2 separate regions of the Homo sapiens genome follow, and region 1 is linked to region 2. Evidence: fine-mapped expression QTL. A gene starts in region 2. The other region holds a variant in brackets. All regions are shown on one strand. Distances are from middle to middle. Region 1 holds the start of EIF4H (eukaryotic translation initiation factor 4H). Region 2 holds the start of GTF2I (general transcription factor IIi).

Region 1 (11,221 bases), 490 kb after region 2:
TTTCATAGAGGATAATGGTTTGGAACTAAGCAATGGAACACTTGGAGTGAAGAAGGATAACAAACCTAAACGACTTGACATTTGACATGTAAACAGCATTTTAAAATAAGCTTTTCAATAGCTTTACAGGCCCTAGCATCAGTGAAAACTAGCTGTAGTTTTTATACACTGCTTTCCTTCCTATTACATACAAATCTTAAAATATGCTCAGAGACAGGAAGTAGAATGGTGGTTGCCAGGGACCTGGGGGAAGGAGGGCAATAGGGAATTACTATTCAAAGGGGACAGGGTTTTAGTTTTACAAGCTGTAAGAGTTAAGGAGCTGGATAGTGGTGATGGTTATACATTACGAATACACTCAATATCCCTGAAATGTATACTGAAAAATGGGTAAAGTGGCACATTTTATGTTATGTATATTTTACCACCATAAAAATTTTGGATAAAAATATGCTCAGAAATTTAGACAGACATGCTAAGTTTAAAGATTCAAAGGTTAGAATTCTAAACTCCTAGGCTGGGCGTGGTAGCTCATGCCTGTAATCCCAACACTTTGGGAGGCTGAGGCGGGAGGATCACTTGAGTCCAAGAGTTCAAGACCAGCCTGGGCAACATAGTGAAACCCATCTCTATTTAAAAAAGAATTCTAAACTCCCTAACTGAATCCTGATAAAGAATAAATTTGGAGTTTTGCCAGTTTTTAGATGGCACCATTTCAGCCACCTCAATTCTTGCCACCTCCAATTTCCACCCTAATTCTCAGGATCGGTGGTTTTCCACTAAGCACTCATAGCTTTGTTGCAATTAGAAATATAAAATCAGTATTACTCTGCACTTTACTGCCAATGGTAGATGAGAAACTGGAACCTCAAAAAGATAATTTAGCAAACTGCAAAACAAAGTCCATTCAAGATCTGGTACAATCAACTCTTGATCATTTGGAATTTTGTTTTGATTTGCTTGCTGAACAATGCAGTCCCTGGTTCTCTCCCTGGCTGCTGGGGACATGCCCTTACAGGCTCGGGGGAAAAAAGCAGTGGTTCAATACTGTTTCCTGACAACTGCACTGGTTATTAAACACAACTACGAAATAAACTTAGGAAGATGTATAACTACCAAACTATGTTTTATGATGATAACTGTTCATTTTAGGCCTACCATTTCTTTCACCTGTGACCCAAGTAATTCAGAGGTGAGATGTACGAGCCTGTCTGAGGCATTTTAGACAAGGGAGAAGGTGCCTACACAAGTACCAAACAATGCAGTGTTAAAACTGCTTTCCATAGGTGGCAATCTTCTATGATGCTTAAGCATTGTAAAGCAGTGACATTTGTTCATGTGGACATAATTAAAATAATTGAGGCCGGGCGCGGTGGCTAATGCCTGTAATCCCAGCACTTTGGGAGGCTGAGGCAGGAGAATCGCTTAAACCCGGGAGGTGGAGGTTGCAGTGAGCCGAGATCACACCATTGCACTCCAGCTTGGGCAACAAGAGTGAAACTCCATCTCAAAAAAAAAAAAAAAGAATACACATGTATAAATGAATATGTAAATTCACCAACAAGTTTTTAAAACTACTTCTGAAAGTAGCAATACTTTATGTAGTTTCACATTAATATGAAGCCAAATAGAAAATTCCAAGTAAGTGAGACATAGAAGATGCTTAACAGTAAAGAGACTTTCTATTAGGAAGTTCAAGTGATGCACAGTGCTACCTAGGAAACTCTCCTATCAGTTTTTGGAGTACACCTGGGGCAAATGGCTAATATTTTCATCTGCTGTGGAGATTTGAAATTAATAGCATCTTAATAGAATTTTACTTCTGATTGTTCCTGGCACCCCCAAATGTCAAAATTTGACACCAGAAGAGCTGGCAAATGTGTCTGAAGGAAATTTTTTTAAATCCCCACACTCAGTTTAATAAGGTCACCTTATTGTAGTCCCAATGCAACTAAAACTTAAATTGACCACGCTGTTTAAGAAGAATTTTTCTGGGTACTTCTGTGAACGTTTTTTGGAACTAGGAAAAAAAAAAAAACCCTAGTTATTAAATTTCGAAATGACTTGAGAACAAATTTGATGTTTAGAAACCTAACCCAAAGGCGATAATTTCATGTCATCCAACATTTACTTCTTTTTTTATTAGCAAATAAAATGTTCTTTGGAATGACAATAGCTCCACCTACACCGGCACACTTCCACGTTACAGTATCATGAACATTAGCTACACTCCTGCCCCGAAACAAGCTTTTGTCTGAGCCGTTCCCAAACCAAGGTATTAAAAGTGATCATTCTTTACCAAACAAAGATACTTTTGGACTGCAACCCAGGAGACTGAACACCTCAGTGTGTATTATTGTGGTGTTATCCTGGGAAAGTAATCCTTTCTGCAAGAAAACACAAAGCCCAAGTGTGTCCTTGACAAACAGCAAGATGTTCATAGCCTATATTCTAACGAGGCAACTTGTATTTAAAAAATAAAATAAAAAAAAGTGCAGAGTCCTGGAATTAAACACCATGAGCTCTCTATTCAAAGATGTTTCTTTTAAGCAAAGTGTTTCAATTATACATAGTTGTCTGCATTTGACAACAATCAGGACGACGCTAAATGCGGTTCCTTCTCCAGATCAGAGCGAGAAACCAAGGAGAAATGAAATTGTGCCAAAGAGCACGTAGCACCTGTCAAGGCACTGTGACCCAAGAAAGATTAATACAAAGAAGCTACGATGGATTTATCTCCTTGGTCTCCCCCCGCCCGCAAGGAGTCGTACCATCCCCGGGCCAGAGCCGCCAAATCCCTGCCTCACACGTAAGGGGAAGGGAATCGCCCCTCTTGGCTGCCGACCTTCCCCAGTCGGCCGGCCTCGTGGCGAAGGGGCCAGGGGCCTGCAAGGCGGGCAGGCAACAGAGGGCCGCGAAAGAGGCCGGGACCGGAGCGGGGCAGGCCGTGTGGCCCGTACCCCAGCGCCACAGCTCAGCCCCGCACTGGTCCTACCGTAGGGGGGATGGGGCTGGAAGCGGGCGCTCGTCTCCGGGCATCGGCGCCGCCGCGGCCAAGGCAGGGCAAAAACCAACACGTTGTCGTTGGCGGGAGGCAGTGGAAGGGATCCGCCCCGCAAGCAAGACCCCGGGAGCCCAGCCGCCGCCGCCCCGTCTCCGAGCGCGCCATTTCCAGGCCCCGGCCCTCCAGGCGCCGCTCCTAGGCCTCCGCGGGCCCCCGCCTCCCGCCGCCCCGGCTGAGCGCAGGACGGCCGCCACCCTGACGGCCCCGACTCCGCCGGTCCCGCAGCCCCCGACGGGGCCCGCGCACGCCCGCCTCACCCTCTGCCGCCGCCGAAGCTGCTGTAGGCCCGATCGTCGTAGGTGTCGAAGTCCGCCATTTGCCGTCTCCGCTCCGAGAGGAACCAGGGTGAGCGAGGAAGGACCCCGCAATATAACTCCCCCCGCCCCGCCGCCGGGGCTGTCCGCCGCGCCGCCTGATCGCAAATCCCTTGGACGCAGGCACGCGCACGCGCGCGCGCGCACGCACGCACGGACGCTGGCCGCGCAGCGCCCGGCCCTGGGCCCACCGGCAGCTGCCTGCCCCGTGCGCTCTGCAGCCCACGTGGTGCGGCGGCGTCCCAGCTGGACGCCTGCCCGGCCTACGCGGCCCATTATGTGCTGGCCCTGGGGTGCGCCCGTGGCTGCCTCCTATCCCCGCCGCACCACGCCCGTGCGCGCCGGCCTTTCCGTCCGTCGGCGGGAGGTGACCTGGAGAGCTGGGGGGAACTCCCTCTCCAGTTCGCCTGGGACGCTGCCTTTCGGCCTCCATACATGGCGGGGACCTCGGAGGCCTGTCCCGCTTGGACCCCCAAGTGGTCCCCGGGTGACACCCAAGTAAAGGCCACCTCCTTCTCCAGGCAGGAGCTGGCCACACGATGAGGATGCCCCGGAAGGGGGTGCGAGGCGGTGGGATGCAGACACGAATCCTGCCTTCCAGGGCTTACTCGCTGCCTGGGTATTGGGGGGTTTTGAGAGGAGAGAGTATAGGTGATCGGTGACTTAGCAAGAGAGACTGCACATCTCGGTTTTTTGCAGAAGTCGTTGCCTTGGAAAAAGAATTGGATACTGTTGTGGATTCCATCATCTAGCAATAACAAAACATGGTTATGCAGTGGGAATTAATTACACGGGTAAATTTCCAGGTTTGTGATTGAGATGGTAGTAATTGTGGATGCCACGATGTTGACAAACCTTAATTATCTAAGCACACTTTGAAAGAACCTCATAGAATTTTGTTGTGATGTGTACCTAGGTATCTTCCGCTTAACCATTACTTTTTATTATGTATTTATTGGTTCGTTGTTGAGACAGGGTCTCGCTCTGTCGCCCAGGCTGGACTGCGGTGGAACAGTGGTAGCTCACGGCAGCCTTGACCTCTTGGGCTCATGCCATCCTGCCGCCTTAGCCTCTGGAGTAGCTAGGACTATAGGCGGGCAGTACCTCGCCTAATTTGCATTTTTTTTTTTTTTTTTTTGAGATGGAGAATCAGGTTGGAGTGCAGTGGCGCAATCTCATCTCACTGCAACCTCCACCTCCTCGGTTCAAGCAATTCTCCTGCCTCTGTCTCCCGAGTAACTGGGGTGACAGACGTGCACCACCACACCCAGTTAATTTTTGTATTTTTAGTAGAGACAGCGTTTCACCATGTTGCCCAGGCTGGTCTTGAACTGAGATCCACCCGCCTTGGCCTCCCAAAGTGCTGGGATTACAGGCATGAGCCACCGTGCCTGGCTCTAATTTGCTTTGTAAAACATTTATTTGTAGAGACAGAGTCTCACTATGTTGCCCAGGTTTGTCTCGATCTACTGGCTTTTAAGTAGTCCTCCTGCCTCTGCCTCCTAAAGTGCTGGAATTACAAGCATGAGCCACTGTGCCCTGCCAACTTTTATATTTGAGTATCTTCTCCTTCATAGCAGTGTTAAGATGGACAGAGCATTATCAATTCATGAGTTAATAGTGTTGAACTCACTTATTCATTTTTCTGTGCCTTTTTCTTCCCAAGTAATAAAACACTTTGCTGCCTGATAGACCTAGATTGAACCTAGGCTCAGTTAACGTCTTACTGGCTGAGTGACCTCGAGGACGTTGCTTAACCGCTTTAACATGCCTGTTTTCTCATCTATATAATAATGTCACCTACCTCTTCAGTGTTGTAAAGATTCAAATTAGTAAATATGTAAAATTCCTGGCACACAATATATATTGGGGACCTACCAAGGTGTCTGGCACCATTATGGGTGCTTTACCTGTAGATAATAATTTCCAAACCTGTTTAACAGCTGTGGAACCACCCAGAGAGAAAGAGACTTGCCCAAGGTCACCTAGTTTTGACCTTAGCACATGGCTCAGAAAATAACCAATGGTTTCTTCTCCTTGCGCAGTTTAAACTTGGACCCCTGCTCCATGCTCCTGCCCCCATTACTCTATTACTCTTATTTACTTTCTTTTTTTTTTTGTTTTTGGTAGAGATGGGTCTTGCCATGTTGCCAAGGCGGGTCTTTTTTTTTTTTTTGAGACAGAGTCTGGCTGTGTCACCCAGGCTGGAGTGCAGTGGCGCAATCTCGGCTCACTGCAAGCTCCGCCTCCCAGGTTCATGCCATTCTCCTGCCTCAGCCTCCTGAGTAGCTGGGACTACAGGCGCCCGCCACTACGCCCGACTAATTTTTTGTATTTTTAGTAGAGACGGGGTTTCACCGTGTTAGCCAGGATGGTCTTGATCTAACCTTGTGATCCGCCCGCCTTGGCCTCCCAAAGTGCTGGGATTACAGG[T/C]GTGAGCCACCGTGCCCGGCCCCCCAGGCAGGTCTTGAACTCCTGACTTCAAGTTATTCTCCCTCCTTGGCCTCCCGAAGTAGTGGTATTGCAGGATTACAGGTGGGAACCACGCACCCGGCCACTCCATTACTCATTTTTTTTTTTTTTTTGAGACAGGGTCTCACTCTGTTGCCCAGGCTGGACTGTAGTGGCACGATCTCAGCTCACTGCAGCCTCCGCCTCCAGCATTCAAGCCAGTCTCCTGCCTCAGCCACCTGAGTAAGTGGCATTACAGGTGTGCGCCACCACGCCTGGCTAATTTTTGTATTTTTGGTGGAGATGGGGTTTCCATGTGTTTCCCAGTCTGGTCTTGAACTCCTGGCCTCAGGTGATCCACCCACCTCAGCCTCCCAAAGTGCTGGGATTACAGGCGTGAGCCACCGTGCCTGGCCACTCCATTACTCTTTTTTTACTTTTTTTTTTTTTGAGATGGAGTCTCACTCTGTCACCCAGGCTGGAGTGCAGTGGCACCATCTCGGCCCATTGCAACGTCCGCCTCCCAGATTCAAGCAATGATCCTACCTCAGCCTCCTATGTAGCTGGGACCACAGGCACCGGCCACCATGCACGGCTGATTTTGTATTTTTAGGAGAGATGGGGTTTCACCATGTTGGTCAGGCTGGTCTCGAATTCCCGACCTCAGGTGATCCACCCGCCTTGGCCTCCCAAAGTGCTGGGATGATAGGCCTGAGCCACCACACCCGGCTACTCCATTACTCTTAAAATGCATCAAATTGCATTTGACCAAAGGGAAACATTAAGGGCTGGAGGCAGTGGCTCACGCCTGTAATCCCAGCACTTTGAGAGGCTGAGGTGGGCAGACAAATTAGCCAGGCGTGGTGGCGCATGCCTGTAATCCCAGCTACCTGGGAGGCTGAGGCAGGAGAATCACTTGAACCTGTGAGGTGGAGGTTGCGGTGAGCCAAGATTGCACCATTGCACTCCAGCCTGAGCAACAAGAGCAAAACTCCGTCTCAAAAAAAAAAAAAAAAAAAGGAAACGTTAATATTTATTCCTGAATGGCCTTACATTTTTTTTACTTCCAAAGTGTCCCAGTCCAAAGTCACTTCAGGGTGAGATCTTGAAGGACAGGAGCCATGTTAAGGGGGTTATGTCCCACAGGGCCTTACATGTGGGAGAAGGGGTGCAATTTGTCATTAATAAAGTAAAAAGCGGGGCATGGTGGCTCACACCTGTAATTCCAACATTTTGGGAAGCCGAGGCGGGAGTGTCGCTTGACCCCAGCAAATGGAGACCAGCCGGGGCAACATAGTAAAACCCCAAATCTACAAAAAATAAAAATTAGCCAGGTGTGGTTGCACATGCCTGTGGACCCAGCTACTTGGGAGCCTGAGATGGTAGGATCACTTGAGCCAGGGTGTTGAGGCTGTAGTGAGCCATGATCACACCACTGCACTCCAGCTTGGGCCACAGATTGAGATCCTATCAAAAAACATAATAAATTTTTTTTTTTTTTTTTTTTAAGGGAGGGCTGTGTGTGGTGGCTCATGCCCGTAATCCCAGCACTTTGGGAGGCTGAGGCTGGTGGATCACTTGAGGCCAGGAGTTCAAGACCAGTCTGGGCAACATGGCAAAACCCCATCTCTGGTAAAAATACAAAACTTAGCTGGGCTTGGTGGCGTACAGCTGTAGTCCCAGCTACTCAGAAGGCTGAGGCAGGAGAATCGTTTGATTCCGGGAGACAGAGGTGGCAGTGAGCCGAGGTCACACCACTGCACTCCAGCCTGGGTGACAGAGCAAGAATCCGTCTAAAAAATTAAAAAATAGACTTTCTAGGAAGGCTGGGGCTTTCTCAGCACTGGGACCAACCACAGGTCATCCCCTCCTTCCCGGCTTAATACCCCTTTCTCCCCAGCCAGCAGCTGGGGCCAGTCTTTCGGGCCACACTCCTAGACCCTCCAATCTATAGGGACTTCCCCCTTCTTTTGGTCTCCAGCACATAGCCCACCTCCACCTGGGATGCAGAGGATTGAGGCCAACCCCAGAAAGTTCTGTATACATTGTGACTGCTTCCATGGCAAAGTTAAATGTCAGCCTTTCCTGAGGTTATCCTCATGAACTTTGGTCCTATTAATAATTTGTTCCCTGGCCGGGCACCGTGGCTCACACCTGTAATCCCAGCACTTTGGGAGGCTGATGCAGGCAGATCACATGAGGTCAGGAGTTCAAGACCAGTATGGCCAACATGGTGAAACCTCGTCTCCACTAAAAATACAAAAATTAGCCGGATGTGGTAGCAGGCGCCTGTAATCCCAGCTACTCGGGAGGCTGAGGCAGGAGAATCGCTTGAACCCGGGAGGTGGGGGTTGCAGTGGGCCAAAATCACACCATTGCACTCCAGCCTGGGCAACAGAGCGAGACTCCATCTCAAAAATAAATAAAGAAATAATAATAATTTGTTCCCTAAGCCCTTCCCCAGAGTGGATATTCCAGGCTTCACCAGTTCCCTTGAGCCCTGGGGTGGCTCTCAAAGGCCCAACTCAGATAACACTTTCTCCCAGAGGCCTTTATTGCAGCGGTGAAGCCTGTGGGCTTGCATTTCAAACTGCCTGTCTTCAAATCCCAGCCAAGCCACTTACTGCTACTGTGTGACCTCCAGCAAGGTGCTTAATCCCTCTGTTCTTTGTCTATAAAACAGGAATAATAATAGTAATACCAGTTATCACTATTCATGCTGTTTTAATGTGCTGAAATGATGTTTTATTGGTATAATATGGCTATTATCTAAAAAAATCTGAAATTAGCCTGGCACGGTGGTGGCTCATGCCTGTAATCCTAGCACTTTGGGAGGTGGAGGCGGGCAGATCACAAGGTCAGGAGTTCGAGACCAGCCTGGCCAACATGGTGAAACCTCGTCTCTACTAAAAATACGAAAATTAGCCGGGTGTGGTGACACGTGCCTGTAATCCCAGCTACTTGGGAGGCTGAGGCAAGAGAATCACTTGAACCCAGGAGGCAGAGGTTGAGTGAGCCAAGATCGTGCCACTGCACTCCAGCCTGGGCAACAGAACAAGATTCCATCTCAAAAAAAAAAAAAAAAAAAAAAAATATATATATATATATATATATATATATATATCTATATATCTATATCTGAAATTGGGCATGTTGGCTCACTGCTGTAATCCCAGTGCTTTGGGAGGCCAAGGTGGGAGGATCACTTGAATCCAAGAGTTTGAGACTAGCCTGGGCAACATAGTGAGACCTCATCTCTACAAAAAAAAATTAGCCAGGCGTGATGGCACATACCTGTAGTCCCAGCTACTTGGAGGCTGAGGTGGAAGGATAGCTGGAACTCTGGAGATGGAGGTTGCAGTGAGATGGCGCCACTGCACTCCAGCCTGGGTGACAGAGTGAGACCCTGTCTCAAATAAATAGATAAAAATAAAGAGGTTTATTCTGAGCCAAATATGAGTGACCAAGGCCCATAACACAATCCCAGGAGGTTCTGAGAACATGTACCCAAAGTGAGTTGGTTACAGCTTGATTTTATACATTTTACAGGGACATAAGTTATAGGGAAACATCAATCAATACATGTAATGTATACATTGGTTCTGTCTGGAAAGGTGGGACAACTTGAAGGAAGGTTTTTGGGGGAGGCTTCCAGGTCATACAGGGATTCGGAGATTTTCTATTTTCTTTTTTCTTTTTTGAGACAGGGTCTCACACTGTTGCCCAGGCTGGAGTGCAGTGGTGCGATCTCAGCTCACTGCAACCTCCACCTCCCAGGTTCAAGCAATTCTCCTGCCTCAGCCTCCCGAGTCACTGGGATTACACGTGTCCACCACACCCAGCTAATGTTTTCATTTCGTGGAGGCAGGATCCTGCTATGTTGCCTGGGCTGGTGTCGAACTCCTGGCCTTAAGCAATTCTCCTTCCTCAGCTTTCCAAAGCTCTGGAATTACAGGTATGAGCCACCACACCTGGCCTCATGTGCTTAATTTTTTTAAGATCACCCCTTCTAAAAGAAATACATGTCATTTTTACTTATTCATAATTAATTTAAATTTTTGCTAAATTATTATTATTTTTTTTAAAGAAAGGGTCTTGCTCTGTCACTTAGGCTGAGTGCAGTGGGCGTGATCATGGCTCACTGCAGCCTTGATTTACCAGGCTCAAGCAATCCTCCCACCTCAGCCTCCCAAGTAGCCGGGACCACAAGCACGCAACATGCCAGGCTAATTTTTTGATTTTTCGTAGAGGTGAAGTTTCACTCTGTTGCCTAGGCTGGTCTCAAACTCCTGACCTCAAGTGATCTTCCTGCCTCAGCCTCACAACATGCTGGGATTACAGGCATGAGCCACTGTGCCCAGCCTGTCTATATTTAGAACCATCATGATGAAAATACAGAACAACCCCGCCTGTACTGTAAATACAAAAATTAGCCAGGCGTGGTGGCACACACCTATAGTCCCAGCTTCTCGATAGGCTGAGGTACAAGAATCGCTTGAACCTGGGAGGTGAAGGTTGCAGTGAGCTGGGATTGTGCCATTGCACTCCAGCCTGTGTGATGGAGTGAGACCCTGTCTCAAAAAAAAAAAAAAAAAAAAAGTGCAGAACAAAGACAAAAAGAAAAATGTTTAGAGCTACCAGAGTGAACACAAATGCTGTTTACCTGACTGTAAGACTGACGATGACAGAAGCAGTAACAGAAGACAATAGAATAACATCATACAAATTCCATGGGGAAATAATGCCGAACCACAGACTCTATACCCAGCTTAATCATCCTTCAATAACGAAAATAAATGTATTCATAGAAACCTGAGATTATTTATCTGTCACAAATCCTTTCTAAAAGAATTGTAGGCCAGGCTCAGTGGCTCATGTCTGTAATCCCAGCACTTTGGGAGGCCGAGGTGGAAGGATCACTTGAGGCCAGGAGTTGGAGGCAGCAGTGAGTCCAGTTCTTTCTTTCTCCTGATAGAATCCTATTAGACCTATATCACATTTTTTTTTTTTTTGAGATGGAGTCTCGCCTGTCGCCCAGGCTGGAGTGCAGTGGTGCAATCTCGGCTCACCACAACCTCCGCCCCCCGGGTTCAAGCAATTCTCCTGCCTCAGCCTGCTGAGTAGCTGGGATTAGAGGCACACACCACTACGCCTGGCTAATTTTTGTATTTTTAGTAGAGACGGGGTTTCCCCATGTTGGTCAGGCTGGTCTCGAACTCCTGACCTCAGGTGATCCGCCCGCCTCGGCCTCCCAAAGTGCCGGGATACAGGCTTGAGCTGCCGTGCCCGGCCTATTTTTACTTTTTAAAAATAATTTTGATGTGCTTTGGCTGTGTCCCCACCCAAATCTCAAATCTCATCTTAAATTGTAGCTCCCATAATCCCCACGTGT
Region 2 (11,221 bases):
GTAAAACAATTTCGTGTTAATTATACCACCCCAGTTATGAAGCATATTGCAAAAACTCATGTTTATATAAAACATTCATGTCATCAACAAAGAATGAAACAACAGTAGAAATGAATTAGGTGAAATGCAATGCAAATAGCTGGTAACCAGTAATAACAGAAAAGGTTAAGTGTTTAGTAATTGTTCAGTGTTCAGCTCCTTTAGATGATAACAACCTGTCCACCTATGGGTCATCGAAAATGCCAGAACATAGGACAGTGGCCATGGAAGTTGGGATCCCCTGAGGAGTGTGTACAACTCGCCTAAGGGTGTAGGTGGGGAAAGGAGGGGGGTCATCAACTGTAAACTAAAACCATTCCTCCCACCTATCTGCGGTTATTTTCCCCGGAAAGAAATCCATTATAATTTTAAAAACCTAAAAATCACAGGGCGCCTGTAAGCCCAACACTTTGGGAGGCCTAGGCGGGCAGATCACAAGGTCAGGAGTTGGAGACAAGCCTGGCCAGCATGATGAAACCCCGTGTCTACTAAAAATACAAAAAATTAGCCAGGCGTGGTGGTGCGTGCTTGTAATCCCAGCTACTCAGGAGGCTCAGTCAGGAGAATCACTTCAACCCAGGAGGCAGAGGTAGCAGTGAGCCGAGACCACGCACCTACACTCCCGCCTGGGCGATAGAGCAAGACTGTGTCTCAAAAAAAAAAAAAAAAAAAAAAAAAAAAAGGGTCCAGGTGCAGTGGCTCACGCCTGTAATCCCAGCACTTAAGGAGGCCAAGGCAGGCGGATCACCTGAGGTCAGGAGTTCGAGACCAGCCTGACCAACATGCAGAAACCCCGTCTCTACTAAAAATACAAAGTTAGCCAGGCATGGTGGCGCATGCCTATGATCCCAGCTACTCCGGAGGCTGAGGCAGGAGAATCACTTGACCCTGGGGGGGCGTAAGTTGCAGTGAGCTGATTGTGCCATTGCACTCCAGCCTGGGCGACAGAGTGAAACTCCATCAAAAAAAAAAAAAAAAAAAAAAAAAAAGAAAGAAAAAACCTAAAAATCTTTCTCAGCAAGAATTGCCCCCAACCCCGTCCCGCAAAAAGAACCCCCAAAGCCTACATTTTAATGTCAGTCTCTGTAGTCATATTTGAGTAAGCTGAATCGCTGGAGGGGCATGTGGCAGAGGAGACTCAGCACACAATGCTCCCCAACCCCCCTACCTCCAAGGGCCAAAACTACAAGCTGTGGTCCTATCACTCAAACCTTCTGTGTGGTGGTGTGGCAGACTTTGGGCATCTGAAGAGGATAATGTAACAAATGCCCGTGCTGCGACTAAATTAATAAATAAATCAGAGTGGGAAAAAAGCCAAACTTCCAAAGATTTCCCATTTTATTCCACACTTAAATCCATGGCCCCTTTTTAAACTGGAGACTTATGAAACTTTTAACTTTTCTAATCATGGCTAACAGGAATTCTCAACTCTCAGCCAGTTTTCTGAGCAATCTACCGTCAGTCGTCCGAATTATTTTTCATTCTTTAACATCTATTTTATTTTTATTTTTTTTGAGACACAGTCTCGCTCTGTCGCCCAGGCTGGAGTGCAGTGGTGAGATCTCATCTCACTGCAACCTCCACCTCCTGGGTTCAAGAGATCCCCCTGCCTCAGCCTCCCCAAGTAGCTGAAACTACGTACGCACGCCACCACACCCGGCTAATTTTTGTATTTTTAGTACAGACGGGGTTTCGCCATGTCGGCAGGCTGGTCTCCAACTCCTGACTTCAGGTGTTCCACCTCCCTCGGCCTCCCAAAGTGCTGGGATTACAGGTGTGAGCCACCGCACCCGGCCAAGATCTAATTTTAAAGTAAGAAAAAGCAAATATCTCCAATAAATTTCTCTCCCTTCATTTTGCACCATTGTGAATGGTTCTCAAAGGGCTGTCCGGGAAGCAGCCACCATCAACACCACCTGGGGAGCTAATCGAAATGCAAATTGTGGGGCAACTCCCCAGACCTGCAGAATCAGCCTGGGAGGTAGGGCCCAGCAAGCAGAGTCCGCACATGCCAGCTCTCCCGGGGACGCCCAGGCGCGGTGGTTTCACAACCTCGGCTTAGGGGTTGAGTCACACTGGCCAGGTTCATGTGCTAGGCAAGCAAGAGTACAGAACTCTCCAACTTCTCTAGACTTGTTCCGCTCTATAGAATAGAATTACAGACTTGTCACAAAGATTAAATAAGAAAAATACTGTACATCCAAAGCGCTCAAGAGCCATGGAGGGGGCACGGAAGACACTCAAATGTAAGCAGCATTGCTACCACCGGCAAGGCACGAGGACGATGCCAAACTGGAGGGGGAAGTGGAGGGAGAAAGACATAGGAGGAAAAGGCTTCTTGTCCCTGCCCCTACGAGCTCAACACCCAGTGACTAGGCCAGATGCAGAGGAAAGTAAAAGTGCCCTTAGCCGGGCGTGGTGGAGCGCTCCTGTAATCCCAGCTACTCAGGAGTCTGAAGCAGGAGAATCGCTTGAACCCGGGAGGCGGAGGTTGCAGTGAGCCGAGATCGCGCCACTGCACTCCAGCCTGGGCAACGAGAGCGAAACTCCGCTTCCGAAAAAAAAAAAAAAAGAAAAGAAAAGAAAAAGGAAAAGGAAAAAAAAGAGAGAAAATAAAGGTGCCCTGCGAGGAAGGGCACACAAGTTGATTGGGAGACTAAGAAGGAACAAACTCTGACTATGCAATATAAGAGAAGACCACAGGCCGGGAGCGGTGGCTCACGCCTGTAATCCCAGCACTTTCGGAGACCGAGGCAGGCGGATCACCTGAAGTCAGGAGTTCAAGACCAGCCTGACAAACATGGCGAAACACCGTCTCTATTAAAAATACAAATATTAGCGGGGCTTGGGGGCAGGCGCCTGTAATCCCAGCTACTCGGGGGAGACTGAGGCAGGAAAATCGCTTGAACCCGGGAGGTGGAGGTTGCAGTGAGCGAAGATCGCGCCACTGCACTCCAGCCTGGGGGGATAGAACGAAACCCTCTCAACAACAGCAGCAAAAAAAAAAAAAAAAGAGAAGACCTTAAGGAAGTGGCTGCATATGAGCAAGAAAGATTTCCATAGGCTGAAAAATGTCATTCCAGCCAAAAGACCAAGATCTCAAGGAGGAGGAGAAACGAAAGCCAAGGTAGCAGCCACAGAAAAATCCTGTAGCAGGAAATAAAATCGGTCATCCCACACCACAGGCCTCAGCCTGGGGAGAAGACCCCGCCTCCGCAGGGCACTCTACCTGCACGTTCTCATTTGCAAACTAACTTCCCCTTTTGTTCCCTGAAGGACTGGAGACTTCTCCTCTGCACTGTTGGCTGATCAAGCCATTGTCTGCGGCAAAGTTGAATTTAAAAGAGATGAGGCCCAGCGTGGTGGCTCAAGCCTGTACTCCCACCACTTTGGGAGGCCTAAACGGGAGGATCACCAGAGTCCAGGAGTTCCCGACCAGCCTAGGCAACACAAGAAGACCCCATCTCTAAAAAAAAATTTTAAATTAGCCAGGCGTGACCCAGGGCGGTGGCTCACGCCTGTAATCCCAGCACTTTGGTGGCAGGCCGAGGCGGGCCGATTGCTTTCAGCTTGATTCAAGAGTTGGAGACCAGCCTGGCCAACATGGTGAAACGCCATCTCTACTAAAAATACAAAAATTAGCCGGGCGTGGTGGGCACGCCTGTAATCCCAGCTACTCAGGAGGCTGAGGCAGGAGAACGGCTTGAACCCGGGAGGCAGAGGTTGCAGTGAGCCGAGATCACACCAGTGCACTTCAGCCTGGGCCACAGAGTGAGACTCCATCTCAAAAAAAAAAAAATTAGCAGGGCATGATGGCATGCGCCTGTAGTCCCAGCCACTGAGGAGGCTGAGGCAGGAGGATCGCTGGAGCCCAGGTGTTGGAGGCTGCAATGTGCTATGATTGTGCCACTCTGCGCTTCAGCCAGGGCAACACAGAGAGACCCTGTTTCTAAAAAAAAAAAAGAAAATTAAGCCGAAAGCGATGGCTCACACCTGTAATCCCAGCACTATGGGGGGCCAAGGTGGGAGGATCGCTTGAGCCTAGGAGTTCAAGACCAGCCTGGGCAACAAAGTGAGAACGCATCTCCACAAATAATTTTTTTTAAAAAAAGGAGGTCAGTAGTCAGCAAGAGCTGCGCATCGCCAAGAGTGGACACTACTCCAACAGCACCCCACCTGTGAACATCCCCAGCCGCAAATCAGCGCAAATCCATAACCTAGGGAGGACAAAATTCGCTACACGAAAAAGCAAAAGCTGGATTAAGAAAAAGTGGAGAAGTCGGGGAGCGGGAAGGAGACAGCTTTTTCCATTTCATTTTCCTTCTTCCTCTGCACTCCCGTCGTCTGGGTGCTGGCTGAACCCAGACGGCTTAATTTTCATGGCCTAAAGCTGAAGTTTTCCTTCCGGTCATTGTGTTTATTTCCCCCAAAGAACAGGCCCCGCGGGGCAGGCGCGCCGGGCCGGCCCGGGACAAAGCCCACTGCGGACTCCACCTGGGAGCGGGGCGGGGCGGGGGACAGCGCTCCCGCTCCCCCGCCCGCCGCAGTTACCAGGCAACGCGCGGCCCCGCCCCCGCGCCGGTTGGCCAATCCCGCGCGTCTGCTGCCCCGGCGCAGGAGCCCCAGATACACCAGGCGAGCGCGACCCCACGACGGCTCGGGCCTGGCACCGCGCGCGCCCCCGCACCGCCTAGCCGGCCAATCAGCGCGGCGGGGCATGCGCAGCCCGCAGGGCCGCTCGCTCGCTCGCGCGCGGGATCGCACGCGCGAGGCGCCCCCCCACCGCACGCCGGTCGGCGCGCGCGCCCCTCCCCCACGCGCACTGAGGCGCGCGCGTGCCACTGTCGTCCCCCGCGACCGCGTCCGTGCCGCCCCACCCCCATCGCCTCGTTTCGGCCACTGCCAAGGCCGGCGGGGCTCGAGACCCGGCGAGGCGGTGGGGGTGGGGGTAGGGGGAGGCGGCACGGGCGCCCCCCAAGGCCCCACACCGCGCGCGGCGGGCCGCGGCTCCCAGGCCCCTGTCCCTGCAGGCCCCGGCGGGGCAAAGTCTCTAATAAAGGCCCCCGCTCGCAATGGCCCCCGAGGCGGGGGCGGGGGGCGCGGGGATGAGGCGAGAGGGACTCACCCGAGTGCGGCCGCCTCCAGGCAGCTCCGGGGCCGGGGGTGCCGAGGGGAGGCGAGTGTGGGCCGCGCGCGGGCTGCGGCCGCCGCGGAGCAGCCTCGGCTGAGGGGAGCTGGCGAGCGGACGGGAGGCGAGAGGGGGCGAGGGGCCCGTGCGTGTCGGTCGCGCTCCTGTCACCGCCGCATGGCCGCCCCGCAGGCAGGGCCTCGCTCAGCGCCTTGATCCGATCACTGGGGGACAGAGGCAGAGGCCGGGGTGACCGCGGCAGGCGGGCGGCCGCGGCTGGAGAGCGCGTGCGGGGAAGCGGGGGGGCGACCGGTGGCCCCTTTTCTCTGCTCTCCCAGCTTCTCTCTCACCCTCCTCCTCCTCCTCCTTTTTTTTTTCTTTTTTTTCTTTTTTTTTTTTTTTTTTTTTTTTTTTGTTCCTCGAAGGCGCGTTGCGCCTGCGCATCCGCAGCGCCGCCCAGCGGGAGTTGTAGTTTCGGATGCGTTCCCCGTCAACGCGGCGGCGGCGGTCGTGGACTACAACTCCCAGGAAGCACCGCGCCGGCTAGCCCCGAACCCGAGGACGAGGCAAGCGCGGCGCCCGGCCCTCTCCAGCAAGGGCTGTCAATGGAGGCGAGGGTGGTGGGAGCGAGAACATGGCTGCACCTGGGGCCTGCGCGGCCGCCCGGGTGGGGGAGGGGAGCCGGGGTGCAGAAACGGAAATCTGGACGGGTGGTGGCTCCGGCGTCGTCCCCACCGAGCGCCAGCCGCCGTCCAAGTCCGCCACTTGCTCTTGCACCCCACATTCCTTGCAAATTGCGAGGCAGGGAAGCTGCAAAAGCCGGGGAGCCCCGGGCTGGGCCGTCGCCCTCCTTGCTCTGCAAAAGGGGAGTCCTTCCGCCTTGCACCACCCTCCAGGACACAAAGAACTCCTCTCTAGTGTTTTCCAAGCTGGCCTCCAAAGAGACCGTTGCCCCCAAGTTCGGACAGGCGAGAGGGGAGGAGACCTTGTGTTTTAATTCCTCCCCCAGACCCTCCGCCTCTATCTCTCCCTCAGGATTTGGAAGGAAACTTGCAAGGGAGTGGGAGCAGAAATCCTGACTCGTAGCTCCTGTTTTGTTCTGTCAACCGCGATGCGATTTAACTCAAACTCCTCCCCCTACCACTATTTTTTGCTTCTCAACTTGAATTAGCCGGTGGGTTTTGAAAATGGAGAGACATTACTGTTCACCTAAGTTAAACTCCAAAACTTTACAACCCCGAGGCCGACGATTTTTAGATGTTTATGTAAAGCACGAGATTGAGTGGTTTTTTGATTCCCGCCCGCCCCCCCACCCAGTACCACCCACTGGGGATTCGGGCCACGACGGCCATCCTCCCCCCACCCGCCGCTTCTCGGTAGGTGGCGACCACGACGCTTTTTCCAGCCTCCAAGCCTTTGTCGCTAGCGAGAAAACTTTCCGAGCAGCCAGTCTTTTGATGTGGGTTCCAAAAACCTTTCCTTTCAATCTGGGTTCTCCGATTGGCATTCCCCATCGTCTCTCTTGCACAGACCGCACCCAATAAAGCCTCCTCTAGAATTTTCATGTTGGATTTTTTTTGAAAAATACATGGAGAGCGTAAAGCTCACCGGAGAAGCAATCTGATTACAGAAGCCTGAATTTTTGCGATTTCCCGGACAATGTCTAGGATCCCTTCGGTCCTTGCCTAATAAGATTGTGACTCTCCTTTGTCGATTGTCTCGAAAGTCATTCATTAAGTTTGCACAAGAGCAACTTTCTTTTTGCACTTGTATTTCATTGACATTTAGTAATATTTAATTAAATTCTCTATTCCCAATACCACGTGCCACTGGCATATATTTAGGAACAAATTTAACTCTTGAGAAGCCTATAACTCACTCTAGTAAGAGCAGCCAGCCTACGAGATGCAGATTTCAGCTGCTGTGGACTTCAGTGAGTATCTTTTGTTGAGAGAGTGGTTTCTCCACCTGGAGGGGTCAGGGAAAGGATTTCCTGGGTATAGTGGAGTCGTGGAGTAGAATTTGGGGGGATGTTACAAAGTGAGTTAGCAAGGCAGAAGTTTATTTAGCCAAGATGACTCTTATCATCGTGAAAACGTTTGGAAGGTAGTTCCTTTCTTCTATGAATTTGTTTAGTGGTTCACAGTGGAATTTTTTTTTTGAGACCGAGCCTCGCTCCGTCACCCACGCTGGAGTGCAGTGGCGCGATCTCGGCTCACGGCAACGTCTACCTCCCGGGTTCAAGTGATTCTCCTGCCTCAGCTTCCTGAGTAGCTAGGATTATAGGCGTGCACTACCACGCCCAGCTAATTTTTGTATTTTTAGTAGAGACGGGTTTCTACTAAACATGTTGCCCAGACTGTTCTCGAACTCCTGACCTCAAGTGATCTGCCTTCCTCAGCCTCCCAAAGTGCTGAGATTACAGGCGTGAGCACCGCACCGGGCCCACAGTGGAATTTTGCTGCCTCTTCATAAACAACTCCAACTTCTTTGAGACTGAAGCAATTCCTAAAACGGTTAGGTCAACATGAGCTGGTTTTGAATTACCTCTAGTCAGAAAGCTGTCTCTGTTGAGGCAATGTGTATGCAGACAAAGCGTTTTTCTGAGCATTTTGCCATTAAGGTTTGTAACCCTCAAATTCATGTGTTACAGTCATAAAGATCTTGCGTGTTCTGTCTTCATTAAGGTCTGGCTCACTGCGGCTTGTTGGAACACTTGTCAACCAATTTCTCCTTCATCTTAGTGGCATAGATACTACATTAATTGTGGCCATTGTTATAAATCACTTTGGATACTATCTCTCTGCAAAGCTGGGGTTTTGTTTTACTTTTTTTTTTTCCTGTTTTTGAGACAGGGTCTTACTGTATCACCCAGGCTGCACTGCAGTGGTTCGATCACAGCTCACTGCAGCCTCCAACTCCAGATTCAAGCCATCCTCCCACCTTAGCCTCCCAAATGCCTGGGACAACATGTATGTGCCACCACACCCAGCTAATTTCGTTTTTTGTAGAGACGGGTCTCACTATGTTGCCCAGGCTGGTCTTGACTTCTTGGGCTCAAATAAGCCTCCTGCCGTGGCCTCCAAAGTGCTGCGATTACAGGCATGAGGCACTGCACTGGGCCCAGGTTTTTTTTCAAATGTAGGATCAGATTACTGTTTTGGGGATTGGGCAACAGAAGAAAAATAATAGTTGATTTGTGTCTAAAAATGATGTAGTAGGAAGTCCTCCTTTATTTTATTTATTGATTTTTTTGGGAGGGGACGGGGTCTTACTCCGGTGCCCAGGCTGGAGTGCATGGTGCGATCTTGGCTCACTGCAACCTCCAACTCCTGGGCTCAAGCGATTCTGCTGCCTCAGCCTCCCGAGTAGCTGGGATTACAGGTATGCACCACCATGCCCGGCTAATTTTTGGATTTTTAGTAGAGACAGGGTTTCACCATGTTGGTCTGTCTGGTCTCAAATTCCTGACCTCAAGTGATCTGCCTGCCTCAGCCCCCCAAGGTGCTGAGATTACAGGCGTAAACCACTGCACCCAGCCAGGAAATCCTCCTTTAAAGACTAGAATCGGGCTGGGCACAGTGGCTCATGCCTGTAATCCCAGCACTTTAGAAGGCCGAGGCAGGCAGATCACCTGAGGTTAGGAGTTCGAGACCAGCCTCAGCAACATGGAGAAACCACATCTCTTCTAAAAATATAAAATTAGCCGGGCGTGGTGGCGCATGCCTGTAATCCCAGCTACTCAGGAGGCTGAGGCAGGAGAATCGCTTGAACCTGGGAGGGAAAGGTTGTTGTGAGCCGAGATCATGCCATTGCACTCCAGCATGGACAACAAGAGCGAAACTCCGTCTCAAAAAAAAAAAAAAAAATACTAGAATCACAGGATGCATATACCAAGAGATGCAGACTGGATTGGGGCTTCAGCAAGAGCAGATTTGCGGCTCTCAGCTCATGGTCAGTCAGGACATAAGTACAGAGTCCAACAGCTGGCAGAACCATCCATGTTATTTCAATTATTTCCCCCTCTCTTTTTGTTAATGTTTAGCTTAGTCTTCAGATAAGCGTCCATATGATGTGACTTTTCCATTCTTCTGTTTGGTGGGAAACAAAGCCAGGTCAAATGGGCCTTGGCCAAGCTAGAGATGGATCTGGACCCCACGTGAGCACTTCCACCAACTCAGATGCATCTTCGCTTAGACTCTGGGCTTAGAGCTTCGTTGACTGCTTTGAAATAGCATGTGATTGGCGCGGTGGCTCATGCCTGTAATCCCAGCAGTTTGGGAGGCCGAAGTGGGAGGATCACGAGGTCAGGAGTTTGAGACCAGCCTGGCCAACATGGTGAAACCCCATCGATACTAAAAATACAAAAAAAATTAGCCGAGCATGGTGGCATGTGCCTGTAATCCCAGCTACTCGGGAGGCTGAGGCAGTAGAATCGCTTGAACCGGGGAGGCAGAGGTTGCAGTGAGCTGAGATCGCGCCATTGCACTCCAGTCTGGGCAAAAGAGCGAGACTCCGTCTCAAGATGGTGAAACCTGTCTCTACTAAAAATACAAAAAATTAGCCGGGCGTGGTGGCAGGCGCCTGTAATGCCAGCTACTCGGGAGGCTGAGGCAGAGAACTGCTTGAACCCGGGAGGCGGAGGTTGTAGTGAGCCGATATCGCGCCACTGCACTCCAACCTGGGAGACAGAGCGAGACTCCATCTCAAAACAAAAAAGAAAAGAAAAGAAAAAAGAAATAGCACGTGATCATGGGACCCTGCATAGGAACCCCTGAAAGCCCACGGTGACAGAACGGTGGTTATGCCACTTTGTTGAGATCTCTGTTGTTGGGATCATATGCTCTTTTTAAAGATGTTTTTTTGAATCCAAACTGAATACTCTTTTGGTGACTCTGTTATATCATTTTTTTTTTGGTAGAGATGGAGTCTTGCTATGTTGACCGGGCTGGTTCCAAACTCCTGGCTTCAAGCAATCCTCCTGCCTCAGCCTTCCAAAGTGCTATGATTACAGGCGAGAGCACCTGCACCCACCGTCTCTCATATATTATATTATATTTATTTATTATTATTATTATTATTTTTGATGGAGTCTCACTCTGTCACACAGGTTGGAGTGCAGTGGCACAAGCTCAGCTCACTGCAACCTCCACCTCCCAGGTTCAAGCGATTCTCCTGCCCCAGGCCCTTGAGTAGCCGGGATTATAGGTGCACACCACCACACCCGGCTAATTTTTGGATTTTTAGTAGAGACGAGGTTTCACCATGTTGGTCATGTTGGCCAGGCTGGTCTCAAACTCCTAAGCCCAGGTGATCCTTCCACCTCGGACTCCCAAAGTGCTGCCATTGCACTTTCAGCCACTGCGCCCAGACCAGATTGCCCAAAACCATAATTCTGGTGAAAGTTCAGATACTCTGTTTTTTTGTTTTCTGCTTTTTGTTTTGAGACAAGGTCTCTCACTCCAGTTGCCCAGGCTGGAGTGCAATGGCGCGATCTCGGCTCCTGCAACCTCCGCCTCCCGGGTTCAAGCAATTCTCCTGTCTCAGCCTCCTGAGTAGCTGGGATTACAGGTGCGTGCCACCAGGCCCAGCTAATTTTTGTATTTTTAGTAGAGACAGGGTTTCACTATGTTGGTCAGGCTGGTCTCGAACTCCTGACCTCATGATCCGCCCACCTCGGCCTCCCAAAGTGTTGGGATTACAGGCATGAGCCACCGTGCCCAGCCACTTTTTCTTTTGTTTGTTTTCTTTTAAGACAGAGTTTCACTCTGTATCCCATGCTGGAGAGCAGTGGCGTGATCTCGGCTCACTGCAACCTCCGTCTCCCATGTTCAAGCGATTCTCCTGCCTCAGCCTCCTGAGTAGCTAGGATTACAGGCGAGCACCACCACGCCCGGCTAATTTCTGTATTTTTGGTAGAGACGGGATTCTACCATGTTGGTCAGGCTGGTCTCAAACTCCTGACCTTGTAATCTGCCTGCCTCAGCCTCGCAAAGTGCTGGGATTACAGGCATGAGCCAACACATCCAACCACAATGATATTTTTTAATACTG

The links.
Region 1: its variant is fine-mapped to the expression of GTF2I in anterior cingulate cortex (GTEx, PIP 0.98).

What each region holds. Positions count from the first base shown.
Region 1 is chr7:74,166,543-74,177,763 of GRCh38, reverse strand. It overlaps EIF4H (eukaryotic translation initiation factor 4H), which reads right to left and starts at 3,408. Exons shown (of 7, transcript NM_022170.2): 1 at 3,322-3,408. The coding sequence starts at 3,380. RefSeq lists enhancers at 2,343-2,855, 2,856-3,369, 3,351-3,645 and a silencer at 3,148-3,657. The variant T/C (reference allele first, on the strand shown) is at 5,812.
Region 2 is chr7:74,652,012-74,663,232 of GRCh38, reverse strand. GTF2I (general transcription factor IIi) reads right to left here and starts at 5,515. Exons shown (of 35, transcript NM_032999.4): 1 at 5,165-5,515. RefSeq lists enhancers at 1,742-2,021, 1,415-2,057, 2,946-3,085, 3,356-3,585, 5,536-5,585 and 3 more and silencers at 4,356-4,875, 4,946-5,235, 5,256-5,435, 5,806-5,965.